Homo sapiens: one gene and its partner. The protein of the gene in region 1 purifies or fractionates together with the protein of each later gene. This does not show direct contact. Each region holds a gene or a part of one and is shown in the gene's direction. Other genes may lie near its edges.

Region 1 (3,270 bases):
GTGGTTTTGCCTTTCCCAAAAATGAAAATAAACTGTTACCGAAGGAATTAGTTTTTCCTCTTCTTTTTTCCAACTGTGAAGGTCCCCGTGGGGTGGAGCATGGTGCCCCTCACAAGCCGCAGCGGCTGGTGCCCGGGCTACCAGGGACATGCCAGAGGGCTCGATGACTTGTCTCTGCAGGGCGCTTTGGTGGTTGTTCAGCTGGCTAAAGGTTCACCGGTGAAGGCAGGTGCGGTAACTGCCGCACTGGACCCTAGGAAGCCCCAGGTATTCGCAATCTGACCTCCTCCTGTCTGTTTCCCTTCACGGATCAATTCTCACTTAAGAGGCCAATAAACAACCCAACATGAAAAGGTGACAAGCCTGGGTTTCTCCCAGGATAGGTGAAAGGGTTAAAATGAGTAAAGCAGTTGAGCAAACACCAACCCGAGCTTCGGGCGCAGAATTCTTCACCTTCTCTTCCCCTTTCCATCTCCTTTCCCCGCGGAAACAACGCTTCCCTTCTGGTGTGTCTGTTGATCTGTGTTTTCATTTACATCTCTCTTAGACTCCGCTCTTGTTCTCCAGGTTTTCACCAGATAGATTTGGGGTTGGCGGGACCTGCTGGTGACGTGCAGGTGAAGGACAGGAAGGGGCATGTGAGCGTAAATAGAGGTGACCAGAGGAGAGCATGAGGGGTGGGGCTTTGGGACCCACCGGGGCCAGTGGCTGGAGCTTGACGTCTTTCCTCCCCATGGGGGTGGGAGGGCCCCCAGCTGGAAGAGCAGACTCCCAGCTGCTACCCCCTCCCTTCCCATGGGAGTGGCTTTCCATTTTGGGCAGAATGCTGACTAGTAGACTAACATAAAAGATATAAAAGGCAATAACTATTGTTTGTGAGCAACTTTTTTATAACTTCCAAAACAAAAACCTGAGCACAGTTTTGAAGTTCTAGCCACTCGAGCTCATGCATGTGAAACGTGTGCTTTACGAAGGTGGCAGCTGACAGACGTGGGCTCTGCATGCCGCCAGCCTAGTAGAAAGTTCTCGTTCATTGGCAACAGCAGAACCTGCCTCTCCGTGAAGTCGTCAGCCTAAAATTTGTTTCTCTCTTGAAGAGGATTCTTTGAAAAGGTCCTGCAGAGAAATCAGTACAGGTTATCCCGAAAGGTACAAGGACGCACTTGTAAAGATGATTAAAACGTATCTTTCCTTTATGTGACGCGTCTCTAGTGCCTTACTGAAGAAGCAGTGACACTCCCGTCGCTCGGTGAGGACGTTCCCGGACAGTGCCTCACTCACCTGGGACTGGTATCCCCTCCCAGGGTCCACCAAGGGCTCCTGCTTTTCAGACACCCCATCATCCTCGCGCGTCCTCACCCTGTCTCTACCAGGGAGGTGCCTAGCTTGGTGAGGTTACTCCTGCTCCTCCAACCTTTTTTTGCCAAGGTTTGTACACGACTCCCATCTAGGCTGAAAACCTAGAAGTGGACCTTGTGTGTGTGCATGGTGTCAGCCCAAAGCCAGGCTGAGACAGTCCTCATATCCTCTTGAGCCAAACTGTTTGGGTCTCGTTGCTTCATGGTATGGTCTGGATTTGTGGGAATGGCTTTGCGTGAGAAAGGGGAGGAGAGTGGTTGCTGCCCTCAGCCGGCTTGAGGACAGAGCCTGTCCCTCTCATGACAACTCAGTGTTGAAGCCCAGTGTCCTCAGCTTCATGTCCAGTGGATGGCAGAAGTTCATGGGGTAGTGGCCTCTCAAAGGCTGGGCGCATCCCAAGACAGCCAGCAGGTTGTCTCTGGAAACGACCAGAGTTAAGCTCTCGGCTTCTCTGCTGAGGGTGCACCCTTTCCTCTAGATGGTAGTTGTCACGTTATCTTTGAAAACTCTTGGACTGCTCCTGAGGAGGCCCTCTTTTCCAGTAGGAAGTTAGATGGGGGTTCTCAGAAGTGGCTGATTGGAAGGGGACAAGCTTCGTTTCAGGGGTCTGCCGTTCCATCCTGGTTCAGAGAAGGCCGAGCGTGGCTTTCTCTAGCCTTGTCACTGTCTCCCTGCCTGTCAATCACCACCTTTCCTCCAGAGGAGGAAAATTATCTCCCCTGCAAAGCCCGGTTCTACACAGATTTCACAAATTGTGCTAAGAACCGTCCGTGTTCTCAGAAAGCCCAGTGTTTTTGCAAAGAATGAAAAGGGACCCCATATGTAGCAAAAATCAGGGCTGGGGGAGAGCCGGGTTCATTCCCTGTCCTCATTGGTCGTCCCTATGAATTGTACGTTTCAGAGAAATTTTTTTTCCTATGTGCAACACGAAGCTTCCAGAACCATAAAATATCCCGTCGATAAGGAAAGAAAATGTCGTTGTTGTTGTTTTTCTGGAAACTGCTTGAAATCTTGCTGTACTATAGAGCTCAGAAGGACACAGCCCGTCCTCCCCTGCCTGCCTGATTCCATGGCTGTTGTGCTGATTCCAATGCTTTCACGTTGGTTCCTGGCGTGGGAACTGCTCTCCTTTGCAGCCCCATTTCCCAAGCTCTGTTCAAGTTAAACTTATGTAAGCTTTCCGTGGCATGCGGGGCGCGCACCCACGTCCCCGCTGCGTAAGACTCTGTATTTGGATGCCAATCCACAGGCCTGAAGAAACTGCTTGTTGTGTATCAGTAATCATTAGTGGCAATGATGACATTCTGAAAAGCTGCAATACTTATACAATAAATTTTACAATTCTTTGGAATGAGGCTTTTTCACTTCTTTGGCCAAATGTAGCTCTTCTCACTTCCCACCCCTTTCTACAATAACCCCGGGTGCATTCAAGGGAGGCGAAGCGATCCCTCGGAGCTGCTGGGCAACCTTGAACAGTTCGTTCAAACTTTCTGTTTTATTAGTTCAGGCAGCATTCAGGGAGCCCAGTGAAAACACTAGCTCAGGCAGGTTCTGGTAAAGGGGGTGGTCGTTGTTAAACAATTTTGCAAAACACTGCATACTTTTCCTCCGTCGGGAAATCATTATTCACCATAGCATGACGAAAGCTCTGATAAGGTCTGCAAGGAAAAAAGAAACTGTCTTAGGTAGGGTTCTTCCAGAAGTAACCCCAAGACGTGGCCTTGTGTGTAAGGGATTAGGACGTTTTAAGGATGTGCTCCCAGGGGGCTTCCGCTAAGGGAGTCAGGGAAGAGGATCAAGGAGGGGGAGAACCTGAGCAAGGGAGACACTTGTGGACAGAGTTCCAGCCTCAGCTTGATCCCAAGAGGACCTGTGGGGGCTCTGGACCCTGGAAAGGTAGAGTCCCAGACC
Region 2 (3,650 bases), on another chromosome or scaffold:
ATTTCAGAAATTCCGACTTGAGAAACTGGGTGGATATAGTGGGGTGGTTTACTAGGGTGGAGGAAAACGGTGGGGGGAAGGCAGGGTTTGGGAAGGTGTTGATGTGCTGTTGGGTTGGAGATGCTTTCTAATCATCTAAGGGAGGCCATCAGTAGAAAAGTTGGCGCTGATTGGAGAGGCTGGGCTGTACATTGCTTGCTAGGATACGGGACTGGAGTGTCCAAGCAGATCTGGTGGCCCTCAGCAGGGAGCAGGGAACTTCGGAGTTGCCTTGGCCACTCCTTTCATCTCCCCTCCTGCTCTCTCACCCCACCTCCCAGGTCTATACTCGCTATGGGAAGTGTTACACCTTCAACGCGGACCCGCGGAGCTCGCTGCCCAGCCGGGCAGGGGGCATGGGCAGTGGCCTGGAGATCATGCTGGACATCCAGCAGGAGGAGTACCTGCCCATCTGGAGGGAGACAAGTACGCAGGCCGGAAAGGGACAAGGGCCACCTTGGGGACTGGGGCCTGGGCCCTCTGCCTGGGATGGGTTTCCAAAGGTCCCCATCTCTGCTGTGCAGATGAGACGTCGTTTGAGGCAGGTATTCGGGTGCAGATCCACAGCCAGGAGGAGCCGCCCTACATCCACCAGCTGGGGTTCGGGGTGTCCCCAGGCTTCCAGACCTTTGTGTCCTGCCAGGAACAGCGGGTGAGCATCTCCTGCTAGGCCCTGGATTGGGCACAGGGCTCGCCTTTGGGCTCAGAGGGGATGTGGAGCAAACCTGCCCTCTAGAAGCTCAGAGCCTGCCAGCTGTGTTGACTTTGCTGGGGCTGTGGGCACTGGAGGACTGGGTGGGATTCCTGAGCATGACCTCATCATGCCCCACCTCTGCAGCTGACCTACCTGCCCCAGCCCTGGGGCAACTGCCGCGCAGAGAGTGAGCTCAGGGAGCCTGAGCTTCAGGGCTACTCGGCCTACAGTGTGTCTGCCTGCCGGCTGCGCTGTGAAAAGGAGGCCGTGCTTCAGCGCTGCCACTGCCGGATGGTGCACATGCCAGGTGGGCACCCCACCCCCAGCCAGCCCTCCATGCCACCCTGCTAGGCTCCAGAGCCTCCCGGGGCAAGGCACTGCTCATGTGCACAGGCAGGTGCATGTATACAACATGTGTATGTGTCTGTACCCGTGTGAGTGTGAGTGTTTGGGATTTTTAAACATGGTTTCACATATGCATGTGGGAATGCCGGCATGCAGATGCCTGTGTGCATGTTAATATGTATTTGTGTACGTGCATGCTCATTTATATCCGTGGTTGCGTATTTGTGGGGGTTGTGTGTGTGGTGTTCAAGCACATTTATGCAAATGTGTGCATATGTGTGTGCATGCATGTATGTGCTTACATTTGGGCGTGTGGGGGACAGGGGAAGTGATCGTAGATTCCAGGAATAATCTTCTCTCCTTTCAGGCAATGAGACCATCTGCCCACCAAATATCTACATCGAGTGTGCAGACCACACACTGGGTCCGTGCTGCCTACCCTTTCCTACCTCTCCATCAGCCTCTTCATGTCTCTGTCCACTCTTCTCCTCACTGTCTTGGATCCTCCCCTCCCAATCTCTTCCTGGAGGGTTCTTCCTGGGGGTTGAGCCTTAGCCCATACTTCAGTGGGGTTGGGGAGAGGTCTGCGGACCTCTGCAGGTACAGACACTTGGGTAAGTGGAGGCAGCAGGGTGGGGGGTTGCAGAGAAGCCAGGACTGGGAGTGAAGGTCTGGGCTTCTCATCTTGGTTCAGCCAATGAGCTCACCCACTTTGAGAAAGTGAAATGACTTCTCTCTTGGTCTCAGGAAAAATGCATTGCTGGCTATCGGTGTGGGTAAGGCAAACCCCATCTGTCCACAGATCTTGCCTGATCTGCAGTTCATCCATCTATCCATCCATTCATCGATTCGCGCATTCTCCAGACCTTTACAGCCTGTGCTGGGTACTGGAGGTGAGAGTGGGGGCGACAGCCCTGCCCTTGGAGAGCTTACACCCCGGCAGGGCTGTGGACAGCCATTCCCACACAGCCCGTCAACTCCTGGAGAGGGGAGCCTCGGGTGTGCTGCAAGGCCCCAAGGAGGGGTGTGCAGCCCTAGCCTGGGAAGGTAGGGAGGATTCCTAGAGGAAGGGACACATTAGCTGAGGCTTGATGGGTGTATAAGAGTCAGGTGCAAAGGGGGACATACACTGAAGACCTGTGGCCAGAAAGAGCATGCTGTGTCCGGGGCACTGAAAGGTCTGTGTGGCTGCAGGGCAGAGAACAGGGGAGGGAGTAGAAAGAGTAGAGGAGGGAGGCCAGGCACGGTGGCTCACAAGTGTAGACCCAGCACTTTGGGAGGCCAGGGTCTGTGGATCACTTGAGCCCAGTAGTTCAAGACCAGCCTGGGCAACATGGTGAGACCCTGTCTCTGCAAAAAATAAAAAAGTGAACTGGGTGTGGTGGTGCACATCTATAGTCCCACCTATTCGGGAGGCTGAGGCAAGAGGATAGGCTTGAGCCTGGGAGGTTGAGGCTGCGGTGAGCTGGGATCACACCATTGCACTCTAGTCTGAGCTACAGAGTTACCCTGTCTCAAAAAAAAAAAAAAAAAAAAAAAAAAAGAGGAGGGAGGCTCTAGGAAGCCAACAAAGGCCTGTGGCAAGGCAGGAATGCCAGGTGAGTCCAATGAGATAGGAGGGGAGGAGACTCAAAGCCAGGGACTGGCGAAGCTGGCTGCAGTAATCCAGACACCTGGGGCCTTGGGGCTGGGTTTGAGACACTGGGCAGCCACACACATCCAGCCCTTCTCTGTCCCCCACACCACCTGCATCTGTCACAGGGGTGATTGGAGATGTTTAGTGAAGGAACAGATATGTGATCAGGAGTAAGGTGCCTGCAAGGCACAGCGGTAGACCACAGAGCTAGCAACATGGGGAGCCTTCATTCCCACCAGGCCTGCAGGAGGAGAGAGAGACCTGTGGCTGTCCGAGAGGGCTGACTGACAGCAGCATGGCTGGAGGAGCACAGCCTCTGCCACCTACGGCCTGGCAGTGAGAAAGCCAGGCGGGAGAAATACCCTGGCATCTCTTCCCTCTCACCTTCTGTTTCTGCTGGGGCCTCCTGTTGGCCAAACTGAACCCAAAGCCAGAGGACAAGGGAGTTTAGTTGATGCATTTGGGGGAGATCAGCCTCATAGGGTGCAGAGCAAGGTTGAAGAGTGGAGAGTGGATCTGAAGGGGCAGGCAGAGAAAGCCCAGCACATTGATCCTGGGAAGCTTGTCGGTCTATTTGTTCTTCTGTTCGCCCATCCGTCGATCTGGCCATCTGCCATCCATCCATCCATCCATCCATCCATCCATCCATCCATCCATCCATGCATGCATCCCAGCATCCTCTCCACACCTCCTTGTGTGTCTGAGGCCTCACATAGTTGATTAGCTCTGGTGGATGGGCTGTGTTCTCCCTCTGGGCCACGAGGACCCCCCCCCAGTCCCAGGGGGTTGGGAGGGTGCTGGGGGGTTCTGCTTATATCTGCTCTCTGGAGCAGTCTGAAGCTGGTTCAGGCGGGGACCTGCAGCCAGTCCCCTCTAGGAAGCACTGGGGCTGGCCAGTAAAGGCCCTCAGTGTGGGTGTGCCTGCCTCAGGACGGC

The links.
Region 2: the proteins of PMEPA1 (region 1) and ASIC4 purify together in Homo sapiens (co-immunoprecipitation; one large-scale study listed by IntAct). This does not show direct contact.

The regions. Positions count from the first base shown.
Region 1 is NC_000020.11:57,647,836-57,651,105, reverse strand, and holds the end of PMEPA1 (protein TMEPAI), read left to right. Parts: 3' UTR 1-2,710; downstream 2,711-3,270. UniProt on the Homo sapiens protein: Functions as a negative regulator of TGF-beta signaling and thereby probably plays a role in cell proliferation, differentiation, apoptosis, motility, extracellular matrix production and immunosuppression.
Region 2 is NC_000002.12:219,531,438-219,535,087, forward strand, and holds part of ASIC4 (acid-sensing ion channel 4), read left to right. Parts: intron 1-320; coding exon 321-465; intron 466-563; coding exon 564-691; coding exon of another isoform or gene 692-709; exon of another isoform or gene 710-877; coding exon 878-1,040; exon of another isoform or gene 1,041-1,445; coding exon 1,446-1,502; exon of another isoform or gene 1,503-1,825; coding exon of another isoform or gene 1,826-2,142; exon of another isoform or gene 2,143-3,650. UniProt on the Homo sapiens protein: Does not exhibit measurable stand-alone pH-gated sodium channel activity but may form pH-gated heterotrimeric sodium channels. Its activity could also depend on alternative gating mechanisms.